Linked DNA regions of Homo sapiens. The protein of the gene in region 3 purifies or fractionates together with the protein of the main gene of each other region. This does not show direct contact. Each region holds a gene or a part of one and is shown on either strand. Other genes may lie near its edges.

Evidence for each region.
Region 1: the proteins of CCT8L2 (region 3) and SIMC1 purify together in Homo sapiens (affinity purification with mass spectrometry; one large-scale study listed by BioGRID and IntAct). This does not show direct contact.
Region 2: the proteins of CCT8L2 (region 3) and THUMPD3 purify together in Homo sapiens (affinity purification with mass spectrometry; one large-scale study listed by BioGRID and IntAct). This does not show direct contact.

Annotation. Positions count from the first base shown.
Region 1 is NC_000005.10:176,290,404-176,294,055, reverse strand, and holds part of SIMC1 (SUMO-interacting motif-containing protein 1), read right to left. Parts: coding exon 3,101-3,652; intron 1-3,100.
Region 2 is NC_000003.12:9,376,434-9,380,085, reverse strand, and holds part of THUMPD3 (tRNA (guanine(6)-N(2))-methyltransferase THUMP3), read right to left. Parts: intron 2,268-3,652; coding exon 2,198-2,267; intron 1-2,197. UniProt on the Homo sapiens protein: Catalytic subunit of the THUMPD3-TRM112 methyltransferase complex, that specifically mediates the S-adenosyl-L-methionine-dependent N(2)-methylation of guanosine nucleotide at position 6 (m2G6) in tRNAs.
Region 3 is NC_000022.11:16,590,660-16,594,411, reverse strand, and holds CCT8L2 (T-complex protein 1 subunit theta-like 2), read left to right. Parts: upstream 1-1,601; 5' UTR 1,602-1,861; coding exon 1,862-3,535; 3' UTR 3,536-3,661; downstream 3,662-3,752. UniProt on the Homo sapiens protein: Possible molecular chaperone; assists the folding of proteins upon ATP hydrolysis.

The DNA.
Region 1 (3,652 bases), on a different chromosome or scaffold from region 3:
GAAGTTTTAAATTCATTTTGTTGTTAGGAGAAGAATTCCATTTTTTTTTTGTGCGAACAGTAAATATTAAGTTGCTTCTTCCCCCAAAAAATATGTATATAAAGACTGCGAGAGAATATGTGAAAAGTGATTTTCTATTATGTGGGTGGTAGAATTAGTGGTGATTTTTTCTCTATGTGCTCTTCTATATTTTTCAATTTTTCCATAACACACTTATTACTTTTATAATTAGAATTAAACAATTTTAAAGTTTGATATGAGGGTTTAATAACAATAAATTTGGAGCTCTTAATTTTTTTTTTTTTTTTGAGATGAAGTCTGGCTCTGTCACCCAGGCTGGAACACAGTGGCATGATCATGGCTCACTGCAACCTCTGCCTCCCAGGCTCAAGCCATCCTCCCACCTCAGCCTCCCAAGTAGCTGGGACTACAGGTGTGTGCCACCATGCCTGGCTAATTTTTTTTAGTATTTTTAGTAGAGATGGGGTTTCACCATGTTGCCCAGGCTGGTCTCGAACTTGTGAACTCAAGTGATCAAGACTGTCTTGGCTTCCCAAAGTGCTGGGATTATAGGTGTGAGCCATCATGTCTGGCCTTAAACAATTAATTTTTTTTTTTTTTGAGATGGGGTCTCGCTGTGTCGCCCACGCTGGAGCACTGTGGCGTGATCCTGGCACACTGCAAGTTCCGCCTCCCGGGTTCATGCCATTCTCCTGCCTCAGCCTCCAGAGTAGCTAGGATATAGGTGTGTGCCACCATATTCAGCTAATTTTTGAATTTTTTATAGAGGGGGTTTCACTATGTTGCCCAGGCTGGTCTCAAACTCCTGGGCTCAAGCAATCCACCGACCACGGCCTCCCAAAATGCTGGGGTTACAGGCGTGAGCCACTGCGCCCAGCACTGAACACTTAATTGATCCTCAACTAGTTCTTACAATAATCTTAGGAAATACATACTATTATTATTCCTATCTCATAAATAAAGAAACAGATTTGGAGGGTAAGCATTTGTCATACAACAAATGGCAGAAGCTGGTTTCAAACACACGTGGCGTAAACTTCAGAGCCATTCTCTCAACCCCTACTCCCCATAAACAACAAAAATAATGTGTATATGTTAAAAATCCCAATTATTAAAATATGTAAAATGCCTATGTATAAAAAGGCAACTGGGAAGGAAAGACATCAAATTATTCACAATAATAAATGCTGTCTGGGCCGGGCGCGGTGGCTCACGCCTGTAATCCCAGAACTTTGGGAGGCCGAGGTGGGCGGATCACTTGAGGTCAGGAGTTCAAGACAAGCCTGGACAACATGGTGAAACCCTGTCTCTACTAAAAGTACAAAAAGCCGGAAGTGGTAGCGGGCACCTGTAACCCAGCTACGCGGGAGGCTGTGGCAGGAGAATCGCTTGAACCTGGGAGGCGGAGGTTGCAGTGAGTGAGCTGAGATCGTACCACTGTACTCCAGCCTGGGTGACAGGGTGAGACTCTGTCCCAAAAAAAAAAGAATGAGCTAGTGGTCAGGCAGAGGCATAAAGAAGGAGAAGACCTACAACATATTAGAAGATGTAATAATTTTAAAAAAGAGAAAAAAAATCATTCTCCAAGGTCAAATCAGTGTGAATCCTTGGCTCCTGCCTACCTGGATCACTGCTTGAATGAGGAGAGCATACCTTTTGACACTGAACTGTTTCAAGCTGGTTTTCTTAATATGGGGGATGGGATGTACATAACTAAAAAACACTTCATACGGTGGAACTTAGCCAGTTATTTTCCCTAACACATCTAGTTTACTTCTCATAAATCAATGATGACCAATGGAAAGGAGCATTCCCACTCATGTCTTAATATTGAATTTCCTCCCCCAAAGTCAGCAAGTAATAATTTTGGAGGCCCATAAGTGATAGAGTATTATTATCTCTGTGATATAGAAGCTGTAATAAGGGCACCAGGAAGGGAAAAGCATAGGAGTTGAAGATAAACATTTATTTATTTTTTTGAGACAGAGTCTTGCTCTGTGGCCAAGGCTGGAGTGCAGTGGTGCAGTCTCAGCTCACTGCAACCTCCGCCTCCCAGATTCAGGTGATTCTCCTGCCTCAGCCTCCTGAGTAGCTGGGATTACAGGTGCATGCCACCACATCCAGCTAGAAGATAAGAATTTACATAAGGCCTACGATGAGCCTGACACCCTGACACTTTCACGTATGACCCTGTGAGGTATGTTATTACTTCCATTTTACAGATAGGAAAGCTAAGGCTTAAAAAGGTAAAGTGCCCTGCTGGGCGCGGTGGCTCATGCCTGTAATCCCAGCACTTTGGGAGGCTGAGGCGGGTGGATTACAAGATCAGGAGATCAAGACCATCCTGGCTAACACAATGAAACCCTGTCTCTACTAAAATACAAAAAATTAGCCGGGCGTGCCAGGCGCGGTGGCTCACGCCTGTAATCCTAGCACTTTGGGAGGCCGAGGCGGGTGGATCACGAGGTCAGGAGATCGAGGCCATTCTGGCTAACACTGTGAAACCCCGTCTCTACTAAAAATACAAAAAATCAGCTGGGCGTGGTAGCGGGCGCCTATAGTCCCAGCTACTCGGGAGGCTGAGGCAAGCGAATGACGTGAACCCGGGAGGCGGAGCTTGCAGTGAGCGGAGATCGTGCCACTGCACTCCAGCCTGGGCGACAGAGCGAGACTCCATCTCAAAAAAAAAAAAAAAAAAAAAAAATTAGCCGGGCATGGCGGCATGCGCCTGTAGTCCCAGCTGCTAGGGAGGCTGAGGTAGAAGAAACTCTTGAACCTGGGAGGCGGAGGTTGCAGTGAGCCAAGATTGTGCCACTGCACTCTAGCCTGGGAGACAGAGCAAGACTCGGTCTCAAAAAAAAAAAAAAAAAAAAAAGTAAAGTGACAGTTTTTAAGCGTGGGGCTAAAATTTGAACCCAGATCTGGGCCTCTACACTGAATGGGTCTTCACAAGTGGAGGAAAGATAAGAAATTTCATTTATGCTTGACCTGTCCTCTCACGCATGGACTCCAGTCACACTGACCTTCTCCTAGGCCTAGGGAAAGGACACCTAATCCCTGAGGGAAGATGTTAGCTCACCTCTCTTGTGTCTTTATCCGGTATTAGCGTCTGAAAGAAGAGGTGATGAACCGGAGGACGTAAGAAGTACTTCAGTCTATGCAGGCATGGTCTGTTGTACAACCCACCTTGTGGTGTTCGTGATTGTACGTGGGCAGACCCAGGTTTGGCAGGCTCTGACAGTGATATTTCTTTTCTGGCTGGGGTTTCCATGACAGAGAGCCAAGGAACTTTCTCTAAGGGAGTTTCAGACTGTGGGCTGGGAGAGCAGCTTGGAGAGGACAGAGCTGAGATATCCATAGGCATGTCACGGTTCTGTACATCATTCTGGGTAAAGTCAGGCCTGTCTCCTGGTAAGTGAGGGATGTCTCTAGGTGAGTGTGTCACGTCCCCTGATGAGTGTGGCATGTCTCCAGGTGAATGTAACACATCTCCCGGTAAGTGTGGCATGCCCCCTGGTGACTGTGGTGCATCTGGTGACGGTGAAACATCACTTGGTGACTGTGGCACATCTCCTGGTGACCGTGGCATGTCTTGCAGGTATGCCACATCTTGTGGATGTAATATGCTTTG
Region 2 (3,652 bases), on a different chromosome or scaffold from region 3:
CTAAGTTAATGCGGTTTGAAAATATTTGAGATTTGTGGTTGTGGGAGTTTACATAATCTGATATATTTGAAAATTGCAAAATAAAATGCTATTTCCGGCCGGGCATGGTGGCTCACACCTGAAATCCCAGCACTTTGGGAAGCTGAGGCAGGAGGATTTCTTGAGCCCAGGAGTTTGAGACCAGCCTGGGAACATGGTGAAAGCCCATCTCTACAAAAACACAAAAATCAGCTGGGTGTGATGGTGTGCACCTGAGTCTCAGCTACTCGAGAGGCTGAGGTGGGAGAATGGCTTAAGACAGGGAGGCAGAGGTTGCAGGGAGCTGAGATTACACCACTGCACTCCAGCCTGGCTGACAGAGCAAGACCCCAGGTCAAAAAAATAATAGTAAAATGCAATTTCCTTTGTATGATAGGCTTTTGAATGGTAACCACCATATCACTGGAAGGATTTTGTAATTATAAATAAAAAACCTGTCAGCAGAACATAAATACCAAGCTGTCACATGTCATTTGTGGAATGAGGTGACGTGACCCTAGGCCTGAACAATGTTCTATGCAGATTAACAGAAGGTTTCTGACACGAAAGCCGGGAAAGGTCTGCCTCTGCTTAGGGGTGAGTAGCAAACACCTTTGTGTTCCTTTGTGAACAGTAACATACTTCTCATCCATGAGTGCAGTGTTTCATAACTTTTTCTTTTGCCCAGACACTTGAGGGTGATAACATACCCTGTCTACAATCCTACGATGACATCAAACAAAAGGGAAGTTGAAGTATCCCAGAATTTTGGGTGGGTGGGGATGTAGAGGGGACCTAGAGTTTGAGGAAGGCTCTCAGTGATTCCGATTCCCAAATATTCTTTTTTTTTTTTCCTAAACCTATTTGGATTTTCAGCATTGGAAAGAATTGGGTTTTATAGCATAACACTTCTAAATTAAAAAAAAAAATTATTCTAGATCAAGTATTTTATACTTTGGTGAACAAATCTTTATATATACCTTGTCAATTTATTCATAATTTTATTCATTTTGATCATATATCGGCTTAGGTTTTTCTACATTGACATCTGCATGTCTACTCTTACATGGAAATGGCTCAAACTTCATGTTTTAATTTTTTTCGGCCTTTATTTTTACTCGGAGCTCTGTTGTGTATTTCTTGACATGCGGTGACCTTACCTGCTATTTCATACACATATCATGATTTCATACTAGAAAACAACACTCTGCTTTCTTCCCAGAATCCTTCTTGGCCACAAGAAGGACTGGGTTTTTACTGTGCAGTCTCTTTAAGCCACAGTAATTTCTCTAGCTTTCACGGAACACAGTCACATGTAGACTTCTATGATTTCAGTCTTGGATTTTAACTCCCAGAACAGATACCATTTTCTAATTACAGTTTGGATTATTTCTCCCCTTGTGGGCTTGCTTTGGACTTGCTCATCTGTCCAGTTTCTACCCAATCATATAATCTGCTGTGTCTCCCTGCAGTTTATTCAAATTGGCTGTCAGTATACTATATGGAAGAACTACTATGTTTCACACAAACTTCAGTGATTTTACTGGGAGCTCCCTCTTCTAAATTCTTTAAAAACATATAGATGATACTGATTATTCAAGGGGAATCTACTGTGAAATATTCTCCATTTAGAAAATGCCTTTCCATTTCTTGCTTTGCTTTACACAGTTTTTATGAGTCCTCTCAATATCATGGTAATTTTGAAAACTAAGAGCATTTGGTATTAAGCTTGTTAGACTTCCTAAAAAATCCAAGTAATGTTCATAAGTTTCCCCTTTTTACAACTATACTTATTCCCTCTAGGAACTTAAGTGGATTACAGAGAAGAAAATTGCCTTCCTCCAGTTTATGCTTATGCCTTCAATTATCTTTTCCCATTCAAGTCTACCAGCTTGTCTGTTACACAAAGAGGACTCATCGGCAGTTTGTAATTCTCAGCTTCCTCTGTAATCTAGTGAATAGATGTCACTAACAATGTATCTAGGCCAGTGGCACATGGCTCTTTGAAATAAGTAGTTACATTCTTTACAAAAAAGTTCCACTTTCTATTGTTAATTGTTTTAAAACTCTTGGGTCCACTGATCCAACCATGGAGATTTCATTATGTCTAATTTGCCCATTAGGTCTAGAATATTCTGGATGTATCACTCTTATCTAAAAGCTAAAGAAATATGATTACCTCTATTGGTATTGCCCCAGTTCCACACATTGGATCGACTATTATATCATAAGGTAGAGGATCACAGAGCCTAGAGAAAAGAAAACAGCCTATGTGAAGACTCACTCAAAAGCTGAGGCTTCTATACTGATGATTCCTGAAGCTTTAAGATTGAGGACCTACCACACTAGCCCGAAGGAACACCAATCTACACATATTTTAGAAATCAATTTGTGGCCGCGCACGGTGACTCACGCCTGTAATCCCAGCACTTTGGGAGGCTGAGATGGGTGGATCGCTTGAGGTCAGGAATTCAAGACCAGCCTGGCCAACATGGCGAAACCCCGTCTCCACTAAAAATACAAAAAATTAGCTGGGCGTGGTGGTGGGTGCCTGTAATCCCAGCTAGTACAAAGGCTGAGACTCGAGAATTGCTTGAACCCAGAAGGCGGGGATTGCAGTGAGCCAAGATCATGTAAGATGCAGCCTGGGTGACAGAGCAAGACTCCGTCTCAAAAATAAATAAATAAATAAATAAAATCAATTTATAATGATATGTTGACTGTATATTCCATTACTTGGGGAAAAAAAATCCTTATAACTAAATCTCCTTTGACTATCTTCCAAAATCCCATTTCACTCTCAGATGAAATTTAGTTTGCAGACATCTTAAAGTACACATGTGTACACACACACACACACACACGCTCATGCATACTTTTTGACAACAGTGTTGTTTTCAACAGAAACCTGTATTACATTAAAAAGACTCAAAAATGTCTCAAGTCAAACATGCATCAATATAAGGTTACTGGCAATGAGACATTCAGTATTCCTTTCCTTCTGAATTTAAAGCTAATCTTGATATAAAAAAATTGCTCTGTGGGACTAGGTAATAAAAAAAGGAAAAAAAAATGCTTTACTTTGAGCACTTAGTATTTCCTGGGCATGGACTTAAGCTCTTTCCATGCATTATCTCACAGAATCCTCAGTAAGGACCCTGTTAGATAATTATCATTATTCTCATTTTAAAGGTAAGCTGATGCAAGGAAACATGAAGTTACCTGCCCAGGGACACAAAACTAGTAGGTAACAGATTCAAGATTAGAGGCATTACTGTTAGTGGCTTAACTGTTATCCTCTTTATGAAGCATCCCACCCTGAAACAGGTCAGTAGGTTTCTTCCCTTCTCTTGTTCTTCTAATCTTTTCATGTGCTGGTGTGGGACTTATCGCATGTATGATAACTATTTATCTCCCTCACAAGACAGATTCTTGGGGGTTAATAGTGGGTTCTTATTGTAACATTGGTCCTGCTCTATCTCCTTGCTCCTACTCCTCAACACATGGCAATAGAATCCTTGGCAACCCTCTTGAGGGGGTAAGCACCCTGTACTCCAAGCCATTCCTGATGGTCAGGGGTGAATATCTGACCAAAACAATGTCCATCAGATCCTCTCTTCCAGGAATTTGGAAC
Region 3 (3,752 bases):
GTGTAAATCTATAATTATGTATGCATATAATATGTGCAAAGTAGTAATGTTCATCAAGTTGTAAACAATGGTTATCTCTGGACTAGGATTCCAAATGACCTTTCCCCTATTTTTTTTGAGACAAGTCTCACTCTGTTGCCCTAGCTGGAATGCAGTGGTGCAATCATGGCTCACTGAAGCCTCAACCTCCTGAGCTTAAGCAATCCTCCCGCCTCAGCCTCCCAACGTGCAGGGATTACATGCATGAGCCACCACGCCCAGACTAAATATGTGTTAAACTAAAGCAGAAGCATCATTACCCGAGTAGGCTCTATAGGAGGAAAGAGGAGACAAGTGAGGAAAGGAGAGAGAATGAAAAAAAGAGACTTAAATTGTAAGCATTGAAGGTTAGGATGGGAAGGCGATTCGCATTTAAATCTCAGGACCCCATTTAGGCTTCTACCTCCCTGACCGCTGGGAGGCTGGTTGCTTTTCACCCCTCTGGGTTCACTTCTATTTGTCTGTGAGCTGTCAGCATCCTTCCCCACTTGTCTTGCCCTGCCTCTGCCAGGGAGGCAGAGTTGGGAGTCGTGGCACAGGCATGCACGCTGTGCAGCCTCCCACACCTGCACCCTGAAAGACCAACAGACACCCTAAGAAACCTGATACACAAGCACAAACTGATAAGATACCCAAAAAGTCAAAGGCAGACAGCAAAACATGGCTAATATTACACAGTACTGCAAGAGAAAGTAACACCAAAACAAAACAAAACACAGACATCATCTCTCAGTTCCTTCTCAAATAAAAAAAAAAGGCCAGGTGCAGTGGCTCACACCTGTAATCCCAGCACTTTTGGAGGCCGAGGTGGGCGGATCACTTGAGGCCAGGAGTTTGAGACTAACCTGGCCAACCATGGCCAACATGGTGAAATCCCCCTATCTCTACTAAAAATATAAAAAATTAGCCGGGCGTGGTGGCTGGCACCTGTAATCCCAGCTACTGAGAGGCTGAGGCAGGAGAACTGCTTGAACCTGGGAGGTGGAGGTTGCAGTGAGCTAAGATTGTACCACTGCACTCCAGCCTGGGCAACAGAGTGTGACTCTGTCTCAAAAAAAAAAAAAAAAAAAGGGTGGGTGAGGTGGTGGCTCACACCTGTAGTCCTAGCACTTTGGGAGGCCAAGGTGGAAGGCTCTCTTGAGGCTAGGAATTCGAGACCTGCCTGGACAACAGACAGAAACACTGTCTCTACAAAAAATAAAAAAACTAGCTAGGTGTGGTGGTGTGTGCCTGTAGTCCCAGGTACTTGGGAACCTGAGCAGGAGGACTGCTTGAGACCAGGGAGCTGGGCCTGCAGTGAACCATGGTTATGCCCCTGCACTCCAGATAGGGTGAAATGGGTAGTTTTTCACTTGATCTCCTCCTCATTGTCTCTTACGTTTAAACAAGTCTCAAACCTGGTGCAGAGGTGCATGTACCTCCATTGCTGGACAAGGCCTGACTTTTGCCTGCTGGTAGGGCCTCCTCAGTTCTAACCAGCCTTCTGTGACCTCATTCTCTATCCTGGTTCCATTTTCCACTTTGTGACTTCATCAGTTAAAGATCCCATTTCAGCCACCAAGGTTGAGAGGCCCCAAGACCCAGTTCCTTTACAGAATCAACCCTGGGGTGGCTTTAGGACTGGGCTCTTTGGAGCTCATCCTTGGACCCACAGTGGAGTGCTGGTCCGTGCTGATGTCTTCAGATACCAATCAATGGGCATTTGGCTCCTTGCTTCCACTGACCTCTTGAGTACTTTCAACGATCGGTGTCAGGAGTGCCCCAGCTGCTGTTTCTAGAGCATCTCTGCAACCCACGGTGGCCTCTCCTCTCTCTGCGGGCCATGGACAGCACAGTCCCTTCAGCCCTGGAGCTGCCCCAGCGGCTGGCACTGAACCCAAGGGAGAGCCCGAGGAGTCCAGAAGAGGAGGAGCCCCACCTGCTGAGCAGCTTGGCTGCAGTCCAGACCCTGGCCAGTGTCATCCGGCCTTGCTATGGCCCCCACGGCCGGCAGAAGTTCCTGGTGACCATGAAAGGAGAAACAGTGTGCACGGGGTGTGCCACTGCCATCCTCAGGGCCCTGGAGCTGGAGCACCCAGCAGCATGGCTCCTCCGGGAAGCAGGACAAACCCAGGCAGAGAATAGTGGGGACGGCACAGCCTTCGTGGTTCTGCTGACGGAAGCCTTGCTGGAACAGGCAGAGCAGCTGCTGAAGGCTGGCCTGCCTCGCCCGCAGCTCCGGGAGGCCTACGCCACGGCCACTGCAGAGGTCCTGGCCACACTGCCCTCCCTGGCCATCCAATCTCTGGGGCCTTTGGAAGATCCATCCTGGGCCCTCCATTCTGTGATGAATACCCACACCCTGTCCCCCATGGACCACTTGACCAAGCTGGTGGCCCACGCCTGCTGGGCTATCAAGGAACTAGACGGCAGCTTCAAGCCTGAGCGTGTTGGGGTGTGCGCGCTGCCCGGGGGGACACTGGAGGATTCCTGCCTCCTCCCGGGGTTAGCAATATCTGGGAAGCTCTGTGGGCAAATGGCCACAGTGTTAAGTGGTGCCAGGGTGGCTCTCTTTGCTTGCCCCTTTGGTCCTGCCCATCCAAATGCACCAGCAACGGCCCGTCTTTCTAGTCCTGCTGATCTAGCTCAATTTAGTAAAGGAAGCGATCAATTACTAGAAAAGCAAGTAGGCCAGCTAGCAGCTGCAGGAATTAATGTGGCAGTGGTGTTGGGGGAGGTCGACGAGGAGACCCTCACACTGGCGGACAAGTATGGCATCGTGGTGATTCAAGCTAGGTCTTGGATGGAGATCATTTACCTGAGTGAGGTGTTGGACACACCTCTGCTGCCTCGTCTGCTCCCTCCCCAGAGGCCAGGCAAGTGCCAGAGGGTTTACAGGCAGGAGCTGGGAGATGGTTTGGCTGTGGTATTTGAATGGGAATGTACAGGCACACCTGCCCTCACTGTGGTTCTCAGGGGAGCCACCACCCAGGGGCTGCGGAGTGCAGAGCAGGCCGTCTACCACGGCATTGATGCCTATTTCCAGCTATGTCAAGATCCCAGACTGATTCCAGGAGCTGGGGCCACAGAAATGGCTTTGGCAAAAATGCTTTCTGATAAAGGAAGCAGATTGGAAGGGCCCAGTGGGCCTGCATTCCTAGCATTTGCCTGGGCCCTGAAGTATCTTCCTAAAACTTTGGCAGAGAATGCAGGCTTAGCTGTCTCAGACGTGATGGCAGAAATGAGTGGAGTGCACCAAGGTGGGAACCTCCTAATGGGTGTGGGAACTGAAGGGATAATAAATGTGGCCCAGGAAGGGGTGTGGGACACCCTAATAGTCAAAGCCCAAGGATTTCGAGCAGTGGCTGAGGTGGTGCTACAGCTCGTGACTGTAGATGAAATCGTAGTGGCCAAGAAAAGTCCCACACATCAGGAGATCTGGAATCCTGACTCTAAGAAGACAAAGAAACACCCACCTCCTGTGGAAACAAAAAAAATCCTTGGATTGAATAACTAGTGATACCCTCAATAAAACAGGGATTGCCAAGAAGGGAACAATCACCCCAAAAATGAATGTTTGCCTTTATTCCGTGTTTGGTACTTGATTCACTTTCTTTAAATAAAAACATGAAGGAACATAAAATTTCTTTTCATGCGCTTAGTTCCTTTCCAGTTCTCGACTTTTTTTGTTTTTTTTTTTTGAGAGACGGAGTCTTGCTCTGTTGCCCAGGCTG